Regions from separate parts of the Homo sapiens genome. Here region 1 is linked to region 2. Evidence: fine-mapped expression QTL. A gene starts in region 2. The other region holds a variant in brackets. All regions are shown on one strand. Distances are from middle to middle. Region 1 overlaps NPLOC4 (NPL4 homolog, ubiquitin recognition factor). Region 2 holds the start of HGS (hepatocyte growth factor-regulated tyrosine kinase substrate).

The links.
Region 1: its variant is fine-mapped to the expression of HGS in whole blood (TOPMed, PIP above 0.99).

The regions. Positions count from the first base shown.
Region 1 is chr17:81,623,631-81,628,999 of GRCh38, forward strand. All of the region lies in intron 2 of NPLOC4 (NPL4 homolog, ubiquitin recognition factor), which reads right to left. Among named protein-coding and RNA genes, the nearest start is that of NPLOC4, 11 kb to the right of the region's middle. The variant A/G (reference allele first, on the strand shown) is at 2,915.
Region 2 is chr17:81,680,766-81,686,063 of GRCh38, forward strand. It overlaps HGS (hepatocyte growth factor-regulated tyrosine kinase substrate), which reads left to right and starts at 3,246. Exons shown (of 22, transcript NM_004712.5): 1 at 3,246-3,338; 2 at 4,840-4,924. The coding sequence starts at 3,302. ARL16 (ARF like GTPase 16) reads right to left here and starts at 3,032. Exons shown (of 5, transcript NM_001040025.3): 1 at 2,928-3,032; 2 at 2,771-2,829; 3 at 2,248-2,361; 4 at 1,269-1,384; 5 at 422-1,114. The coding sequence starts at 2,988. The coding sequence ends at 943. RefSeq lists enhancers at 2,497-2,716, 2,934-3,228 and silencers at 2,817-2,896, 3,107-3,166, 3,377-3,476.

The DNA of each region.
Region 1 (5,369 bases), 57 kb before region 2:
TACTAAAAATACAAAAAATTAGCCGGGCGTGGTGGTGGGCGCCTGCAGTCCCAGCTACTCGGGAGGCTGAGGCAGGAGAGTGGCGTGAACCCGGGAGGCGGAGCTTGCAGTGAGCCGAGATCGCGCCACTGCACTCCAGCCAGGACGACAGAGCGAGACTCCGTCTCAAAAAAAAAAACAAAACTCAATTCCAATTCTGAAACCTAACACAGAATGGTGCGACTAAATCATAAAACGTCCACTGTGCAGGGCACTTTGCTAGATGCTGGGAATATTCACTCATTCCTTCAACAAATATTAAGCAGTTCTATGTGCTCAGCTCCATTCTGGGTGTTCAGATCACAAAAATGAACTAGAAAAGACAAGGTTTCTGGCCGGGCGTGGTGGCTCATGTCTGCAATCCCAGCACTTCGGGAGGCCAAGGCGGGTGGATCACTTCAAGTCAGGAGTTCAAGACCAGCCTGACCAACATGGTGAAACCCCATCTCTCCTAAAAATACAAAAATTAGGCCAGGTGTGGTGACTCACGCCTGTAATCCCAGCACTCTGGGAGGCCGAGGTGGGCGGATCACGAGGTCAGGAGATCGAGGCCAGCCTGGCCACCTTGATGAAACCCCATTTCTACTAAAATACAAAAATTAGCTAGGCGTGGTGGCGGACACTTGTTATCCCAGCTACTCAGGAGGCTGCGGCAAGAGAATTGCTTGAAACCAGAAGGCAGAGGTTGCAGTGAGCCAAGATGGCGCCATTGCACTCCAGCCTGGGCGACAAGAGTGAAACTCCGTCTCAAAAAAACAAAAACAAAAACAAAGACAAAAATTAGCCAGGCATGGTGGTGCACGCCTACAGTCCCAGCTAGTCGGTGGGCTGAGACAGGAGAATCACTTCGACCTGGGAGGCGGAGCTGCAGTGAGATGAGATCACGCCATTACACTCTAGCCTGGGCAACGGAACAAGACTCCACCTCAAAAAAAGAAAAACAAAAAAAAGACAAGGTTCCTGCTGTCAAGCAGTTTACCAACAAATGGGGGAGACAAAGTCAACAAAGGTCGAAATAAGCACTACGACAGAAAAGGAAAAGAAACCTCAGATGGGAGGCTAGAAGTCTCTCTGAAGAGCTTCAGCTGAGCAGGGCCCACCCAGCGGTGGGTAAGCCCGCCACACGCGAGCTGGGAGAAAAGGCCACAGGGAGTAGGAGCAAGCACAAAGACCAGGAGGCAGGAAGGGTGTTGGAAACACGGAGGCCAGAGGCCAATAAACAATAAGGAAGATGGAAAGAGATGAGGCTGGCGAGGCAGACAGGGCCGTGGGAAGCCACACAGACGAAAGGCAGGGGGAATCATCATCCACAAAATCCCTGTTGCTCAACACCACACTGAAGAGGAAGCTAGAGTGCCAATTAGAGACAAGAGAGATGGGCTGAGACAGGGGATGAGATGGGACAGGATGGTGGGGATGAAGGCAAGAGCACACTTTCCAGCAGTGGTCATCACCAGGCCCAGCTGACGAGCAGGACCAGGGGCAGGAATGGAATGAGAGAAAGGAAGGAGGTCAGAGTAAAGCTGAGAATTCTAGATTGAGAAACTATGTGGAGGTAACACCTGTGCAGGGACCATGAAAGGAAAGGCTAAAAAAGGAAGAAGACTAGAGGGAAAATCAGGACTTCCATTTGACACTGAGATCGGAGGTGACAACCAGACACACTGCAGTGAAGCCGTCCAGCAGGCAGGTGGGCGCATCTGTGTCTGAGCCCAGGCAAGGGGCCAGAGCAAGAGCTCTACACCGAGGGGTCATCAGAGTAGATGTACCCAAATAAAAGGAATGTGAATCTCGGTAAAGAAACAAATCATAAAAGAACAATCAAATGGAAATTCTAGAACTGAAAAACACAAGAACAGAAATAAAAAATTCACTGAACGGGCTTATCAGCAGAAGGGAGAGAGCAGAAGAGTCAACCTAAACATAGGTGAATAGCTTGTGGTCCCAGCAACTCGGAAGGCTGAGGTGGAAGCACTGCTTGAGCCCAGAAGTTTAAGGCTACAATGAGATATGATCACACCACTGCACTCCAGCCTGAGCGACAGAGTGAGAATCCAACCAACTCTAAAAAGAAAAACATAAATGAATCAATAAAAATAACAGCTATATAATCTGAAGGCAGAGATTTGGGGAAAAAAAAAACAGCCTTAGGAACCCATGGTACAGGATCAAATGCTCCTCACTAGAAAAAAATGAGGGTTGGGCGCGGAGGTTCAAGCCTGTAATCCCAACACTTTGGGAGGCCGAGTTGGGCAGATCACCTGAAGTCAGGAGTTTGAGACCAGCCTGGCCAACATGGTGAAATCCCATCTCTACTAAAAATACAAAAATTAGACAGGTGTGGTGGTGCACCCCTGTAATCCCAGCTACTCAGGAGGCTGAAACAGGAGAATCGCTTGAACCTGGGAGGTGGAGGTTGCAGTGGGCAGAGATTGCGCCACTGCACTCCAGCCCAAGCGACAGAGTGAGACTTCATCTCAAAAAAAAAAAAAAAAAATTAGCCAGGTGAGCTGGCACGTGCCTGTAATCTCAGTTACTCGGGAGGCTGAGCCAGGAAAACCGCTTGAACCCCGGAGGCGGAGGTTGCAGTCAGCCAAGATCGCGCCACTGCACTCCAGCCTGGGCAACAGAGCGAGACTCCATCTCAAGAAAAAAAAAAAAGAAAAGAATGAAAATAGAACAGAAAAATACTTAAGAGTGGGGAAAACCCCAAAATTTAATGAAAAACATCAAATAGCAACTCCAGGAAGTTCAGCAAACTCTCTCAAGTTAAGATACAAAGAACACCACTGCAAGGCACACCAGAGTCACCCTACTGAAAGCCAGAGGTCAACGAAGACGAGAAGACCAAGAAGACGGTGGAACGACAGCTTCA[A/G]ATGCTCAACAGGACCAGGCACCGCGGCTCCCGCCTGGAATCCCAGCATCCAGGAGACAGAGTGGGGAGGATCACTTGAGGAAATCAAGACCAGCCTAGACAACATGGTGAAACCCCATCTCTACCAAAAAATTAAGAAATTAGCTAGGAAGCTCACGTGGGAGGATCGTTTGAGCCCGGGAAGTCAAGGCTGCAGTGAGCTGTGACTTTGCCAGTGCACTCCAACCTAGGCAAAAATAATAATAATAATAATTTTAAAATGGACTGGGTGAGGGTGGATCATACCTGTAATCCCAGCACTTTGGGAGGCTGAGGCGGGCGGATCACCTGAGATCAGGAATTCGAGACCAGACTGGCCAACATAGTGAAACCTCGTCTCTACTAAAAATACAAAAATCAGCTGGGCATGGTGGTGCGAGCCTGTAGTCCCAGCTACTCGGGAGGCTGAGGCAACAGAATCACTTGAACCCGGGAGGCGGAGGTTGCAGTGAGGCAAGATTGTGCCGCTGCACTCCAGCTTGGGCGACACAATGAGACTTCGTCTCAAAAAAAAAAAAGAAAAAGGGCCAGGTGTGGTGGCTCACTCTTGTAATCCCGGCACATTGGGAGGCCGAGGCAGGCGGATCATGAGGTCAGGAGATCGAGACCATCCTCACTAACACAGTGAAACCCCATCTCTACTAAAAACACAAAAAACATTAGCCGGGCATGGTGGCGGGTGCCTGTAGTCCCAGCTACTCGGGAGGCTGAGGCAGGGAAATGGCATGAACCTGGGAGGCAGAGCTTGCAGTGAGCCGAGATCGCGCCACTGCATTCCAGCCTGGGCAACAGAAAGACTCCGTCTCAAAAAAAAAAAAAAATTGATGCATGGTGGGGAACAAAAATGAACTGTCAACTCAGAAATCTGTTTTGAGGCCAGGTGCAGTGGCTCACGCCTGTAACCCCAGCACTTTGGGAGGCCAAGGCGGGTGGATCACCTGAGGTCAGGAGTTCGAGACCAGCCTGACCAACATGGTGAAACTCCATCTCTATTAAAAAGACAAACTTAGCCGGACTTGGTGGCGTATGCCTGTAATCCCAGCTACTCGGAAGGCTGAGGCAGAATTGCTTGAACCCGGGAGGCTGAGGCAGGAGAATTGCTTGAACACAGGAGGCAGAGGCTGCAATGAGCCAAGATCATGCCATCACACTCCAGCCTGGGCAACAAGAGCGAAACTCTGTCTCAAAAAACAAAAACAAAAATTAGCCAGGTATTGTGGTGCACACCTGTAATCCCAGCTACTTGGGAGGCTGAGGCAGGAGAACTGCTGGAACCCAGGAGGCGGAGGTTGCACTGAGCCGAGATCACGCCACCACATTCCAGCCTGGGCGACAGAAAAAGACTCCATCTCAAAAAAAGAAATTTGTATTGAATGAAAATATCCTTGGGAGGCCAAGGCGGGCAGATCACGAGGTCAGGAGATGAAGACCATCCTGGCTAACATGGTGAAATCCCGTCTCTACTAAAAATACAAAAAATTAGCCAGGCATGGTGGTGGGCGCCTGTAGTCCAGCTACTCGGGAGGCTGAGGCAGGAGAGTGGCGTGAACCCGGGAGGCGGAGCTTGCAGTGAGCCAAGATCATGCCACTGCATTCCAGCCTTGGAGACAGAGCGAGACTCCCTCTCATAAAAAAAAAAAGAAAAAAAAAAGAAAAAGAAAATATATCCTTCATGGCTGGGCACGGTGGCTCACACTGAAGCGGGTGGATCACGAGGTCGGGAGTTCAAGACCAGCATGGTGAAGATAGTGAAACCCCGTCTCTACTAAAAATACAAAAAATTAGTCAGGTATGGTGGCGGGTGCCTGTAATCCTAGCTACTCGAGAGGCTTAGGCAGAGGATTGCTTGAACCCAGGAGGCAGAGGTTGCAGTGAGCCGAGATCATGCCACTGCACTCCAGCCTGGGCAACAGAGTGAGATGCCATCTCAAAAAAAAAGAAAATAACCCTCATATAAACACAGGGCAAAACGAAAACATTTTCAGGTCAAAAAAACCCAAAGGTCTGTGACCAACAAACCTACCTACAACAAAGGCTAATGGATGTTTTTCAGTCTGAAGAGAAACAACACCAGACAGAAATAGTCTGGGGGAATCCATGGGAAAAGTAAATAAGGAAGAAACTGTGAAGATAAGCTAAGAAGTACATAATATGCAACTATCACAGTAAATGAAATATTTTGTGATTGGTTAAAAAAAGAAAAACTGTCATGGGAATCCTGGACACAATGCAGGTCAGGAGACCAGGGAGGAGCCAGGGATGATTCTTTGAGTCAACTGTAGTCATATCTACAATTCATACTTTTTTTTTTTTTTGAGACAGTCTCACTCTGTCGCCCAGGCTGGAGTGCAGTGGCGCGATCTCAGCTCACTGCAAGCTCCGCCTCCTGGGTTCACATCATTCTCCTGCCTCAGCC
Region 2 (5,298 bases):
ACGCCCAGCTAATTTTTTGTATTTTTAGTAGTGACAGGGTTTCACCATGTTGGCCAGTCTGGTCTCGAACTCCTGATCTGGTGATCTGCCTGCCTCAGCCTCCCAAAGTGCTGGGATTACAGGCGTGAGCCACTGCGTCCGGCCACCAGCTTGTTTCTAACTCGAGGCCTGGCTCTTACTACCACACTCACTTCACCTGCCTCATGCCGTCTGTGGCAGATGCAGGGTCAGGGTACCAGCGGCTCAGCAGGTTGGAGGTTGTGCTACAGCAAGAGGCCAGGTTTCAGTGGCACTGTGCAGTCCATACGCCTTGGGGGCAGTCCAGCAGGTCTCCAGGAAGGAGGTGAGCCAACCCCAATAGCACCACTCTAAGATACAGAACACTCGGCCATCTGCAGGCCCTGCTCATCCAGTCTGGGGACAGGTTTTTATTTTTTTATTTCTTATATTTTTTAAGACGGAGTTTCACTCTTGTTGCCCAGGTGCAGTGCAATGGCATGATCTCGACTCACTGCAACCTCCACCTCCCAGGTTCAAGGGATTCTCCTGTCTCAGCCTCCCAAGTAGCTGAGATTACAGGCATGCACCAGCACACCCAGCTAATTTTGTATTTTTAGTAGAGACAGGGTTTCTCCATGTTGGTCAGGCTAGTCTCGAACTCCCGACCTCAGGTGATACACCCGCCTCGGCCTCTCAAAGTGCTGGGATTACAGGTGTGAGCCACCATGCCTAGCCCCTGGGGACACTTTTTTCAGAGGCCAGATGTCAACTTCCATCTCCACATGCCTCAGTTTACACATCATTGCATCTCAGCACAGAGCCCCATCATGTAGGGTTACTTTGGGTTATTCTGCCCCTGTGAGAAGAAACTATTGGCAGCAAAGCCATACTGCCCTCTGCCACCTCTCCCCAGCTCAGGCCAGCTGCGCCTCTGCCGTGCAGTCAATCGTTGGCTCTGTGGGTGGCCTGGAGCCAGGCCAGCACCCCTGCTAAGCCAGTGCCTTCACGGGCGCTGATTTCTGCCGTGGTGATGTTCTGCTTGGCACAAGCAATGATGTCTGGAAGCCTGATTAATGACTTCATCTCCTCCGTGGACATGTAACAGGGTAGGTCGCTGGAGAGAAAGAGGTGCCCCATCAGAGCAGTGGCAGCCACACACCTGCCCCGGACCCCCAGCTGCACCACCTCCCTACCGAGCCATGCTTCCGGCTGTAACCCGAGGGAGCCCCCGCCCCCGCTGTGCTCCCTCTCAGCTCAGGGACGCGTACATTTTATTGAAGAGTATCAGCACCGATGCTTCTGCAAGTTGTTCTGCAGAAAGGAGACCTAAGAGCTGCACACAGGATGCAGAGAGCTGGGTGGGGTCAGAGGCGTCCATCACAAACTGGGGAAAAAGAAAAAGACAGCAGCAATGCCCCGCTGCCAAACTTCCTCCCCTGGGCCTCACAGACCTGGCACTGGGAGAGCAAAACTGCATTTTTTAATTAATTAATTTATTTTTTGAGACGAAGTCTCGCTCCGAGTGCAGTGGCACGATCTCGGCTCACTGAAACTCCGCCTCCAGGGTTCAGGGTTCAAGTGATTCTCCTGCCTCAGCCTCCCAAGTAACTGGGACTACAGACACCCGCCACCACGCCTGGCTAATTTTTTGTACTTTTAGTAGAGACGGGGTTTCACCATGTTAGTCAGGATGGTCTCCATCTCCTGACCTCGTGATTCGCCCACCTCAGCTTCCCAAAGTGCTGGGATTACAGGAGTAAGCCACCGCGCCCGGCCCAAAGTAGCTTTAAACAAAGCTTTGGGAACAAGCAGAAGCAGAGGGAATCGAGTTTTATGAAGACGACCTGGTGTCACTCGTCTCTGTCCTCATGTGGCCATCAGTTCTCCATACTGGTATCCGCGGCACAGGCCTTATCAAGATGAGACCAACCAGAGGTACGTATAAGTCCAACATAAACACAGACGTACCGGGGAGTGACACAGAGGGCCAAGTCTGTTCTCTGCGGAGCAGCAGCCCTGCCCTCAGCAAGCCCTCTGTGAGCTCCTACCGGGGGCCTGGGAGCGCAAGCACCAGAAACCAGACAGGGTGCCCAGCAGGAAGCAACACTAGCTAAGACCTATTTCCATGAGTAGTATAGTCACTAAATAACCCAAACCCCTTTCTACACACAGCAAGGTTGGGGACTGGACGTCACAGAAATGTAGACACACTTCCCTAAAGGAAGCCCATATAGGATTACAACCCACCAGGAGAGAACGGCAGTTTCCATAGTAACTGGACCAGATGGGGCCCATGCACCCCCCAAGCTCCCGGATGGTGATCTTTCTCTGTGCCACGATGTCAGTAAGATTGGTGCCCACCTATAGGAAAAACCACGATGCAAAAAGAACAATACAACCGCTGTCCCGTTGTGAACTCCTGAAGAGCACCGTGCCCACACCTTACACGGTGGCCTGAACCCCGCAGACCCATTCTCCCTAACGCAGGAACGGCGAGCAGGGACCGACGCCCATCAGTAGCTGGACTCGCTGTGGGGGCGACCAGCCACAGGAAGCCGTTGCGAGGGGAGAGGAAGTGCCCGTGGAGGGCGGCAGGCCCCCTCATCCCGCGCCAATTATCCTCAGCTCGGGCCGTCCCCCGCTCCCGAAGGCTGGCCTTAAGTCACGACCTGACCCGCTGCGCCTCGGCGTGCACTTAGAGGAGCCCGGAGCTCTTCGCCAAGCGCAGAACTGACCCCCCGCAACTCCACCCGCGGGGGCGGACACCTACCGTGGGCCGTGTCGGGGGCGGCTCCCCCAGGTCGCCTTTCCCATCCCGGGAGCTCACCTGTGCGAAGCGGTCAAGGACCCGAGCAGCTAAAGGGTGAGTCCCCGCCCCACTCCGGGTGCCCCCCGCGCCCCGGTCCCGTCCCCGCGCGGAAGGATATCCTGCAGCCGTTTCACCAGCAGCGTCTTCCCGACGCCCGTGGCCCCCAGCAGGAGACACATTCCGTGCTTCGCTCCACCCGGCACCCGTAGCTCGGCGCCGCGGCTCAAGGCCCGCCCACCGGCCACTCTCATTGGATAGTTCTCACCTTCGGACTTCTCATTGGTTCTTAGGGCTCATTGTTCCAAGGGCGCGTCCAATTAGCGCGCAGCGTTAGCGGGAGAGCGGAAGACCCCGCCTCCTCGCGGCTCTAGGGCCGGCGCGGTGACGTGCGCGTGCGCGCACTGGAGGGAAAAGGCGGAAGCGGAAGTCGGGGGGCGCGCCAGCTCGTAGCAGGGGAGCGCCCGCGGCGTCGGGTTTGGGCTGGAGGTCGCCATGGGGCGAGGCAGCGGCACCTTCGAGCGTCTCCTAGGTAACGCGTCCCCACCCGACGGCTCGGCCTTGGTCAGCCCGCAGCCTCCGCCCGGCGCTGAGTCAGCGCGGCCCCGAGGGCCCGAGGGGCGCGGACCGGCCGCCCTGCCCGCCTCTCCCCGGCCCGCTGTCCTCCCGGGTTCGGAGCCGCCGATCCTGGACCCTCGGCGCGGCCGTGGGGTCGGCGTCCGTCGGGCGTTGGCAAATGGGGCTCTGCGAGGGTCCGCGCAGGGCGCCAGGGGCGCTCGGCGACCTCGCTCCTCCGCGGGCCCGGGCATTCGGCCGATTTCCTCTTGACCGACGAGCACCCGGCCGAGTGGGCCACAAGGCCTGAGTCATGAAAGTGGGTGACTCAGTCGGATGTTAGGCTCGCACTTGGGCTTCTGACCCAAAACACTGGGCCTCGAAGGGTGGAGCCGGCAGTGTTCTCTCTGGGACCTTCGAGCTCTCTTGGGGGCTGCGGGTCCCAGACCCACCTTTTGTTCCCACACTGGCTTCGGGAAGTGCCTAATGGTTTAGGAAGGCGTTTTCTCACGTTTTTGGAGGTGAAAGCTGATCCTATCTGAGCCTCCTGGAATTGACGCGTTTTGGGAGGGAAACGAATGTTGATGTGCACGTGCCCAGCAGCACGTGGAAAATGCGTCTAATGTTTGGGGGTAGGAGCTTGGGTGGTCGAATGGGCTGCCCAAGCTTGCCTTTTTGTCAAGTAGGGTTTTCAAGGAGACTTCAAGTGAGACACCTTCCTTGCCAAGGGAACCAGCAAGCAGACTGAGTATCTCAGCCACACAGGTAGTTCAGTGCTTCAGGGATGAATCCAGAGGTTAACTACTGAATCAGTATAGAAAGTGGACGTGGCTTGGCTTGTTAGATCGTTTCTGTATCCGGGAAAGGCGATGTGGGCAGAGCTGGAGCTGCCCCCCCAGAGGGGCCAGTTGTTGGAGACAGCAGTGATGTGGTATGATGACAGGTATGCTGGCGAGTCCTCCTTGGAGCCCCGTTCTGCCCTTATTTCCAAAGCACTTGGCTTGGAGCAAGGGGCCTGGAGTCTACACTGCAGGCCTCTCTAGCCCTTGCCCAAGCTAAGGTCCCATTGAAACCGGGAGCATCTGGGCGAACGGGGACTCCAAGGGACGGGTGATAGGGTTCTTTGTTGAGAAGCAGCCGAGCCTGATGTTTAAGAGTGAATCAGCCTCTGTCTCTGGTGAGCTGTGTGACTCACGGCAGTGCCCTCGCCTCTCTGCTGAGTGTCTTTACCTCGCTCGCGGGTTGTGGGAGGGCTTGGACCAGCACCTGGTGTGCTCTTACGCTGTTTGCTGCTTCCCTGGGGAGGATGGCACTTCCCTGCCCATCAGCACGCTCAGGAGGATTCTGTCATGCTTTTTCATTTGGTCCAAATGTCTAAAGGGGAAGGAGAGAGTCCCCCCCAGCTGCTGCCAAGCTGGGGTGCTGCACGGGGCGTCCAGCAGGATAACCCCTCCCTTTCATGGCATTTTCTCTCTCAGACAAGGCGACCAGCCAGCTCCTGTTGGAGACAGATTGGGAGTCCATTTTGCAGATCTGCGACCTGATCCGCCAAGGGGACACACAGTGAGTTAGCGGGGCCTGTGCCCTGATGCGGAGGAGCAGCCGTGCACTAAGCTGGGCTCGCTTGGTGCCCGTTGGGTCTCCACGACGTAGCTGACCGTGTTAGGCTCTTATGTGGAGAACTGCATGGGCTACATGCTAGGATTTTTTGACATCTTGGAGGATTAAGGGGTTTTCTCTGTACAGCTTGCAGATACCTGGTTATGTTTGTATTTGCTTCGGGGTTCTCAAAGACTAAGATGGCAGACAGACTTTTTTTTTTAAGACGGGGCCTTGCTTTGTCACCCAGGCTGAAGTGCAGTGGCGTGATCTCAGCTCACTGCAGCCCCTGCCTCCCAAGCTCAAACGATCGTCCCACCTCAACCTCCTGAGTAGCT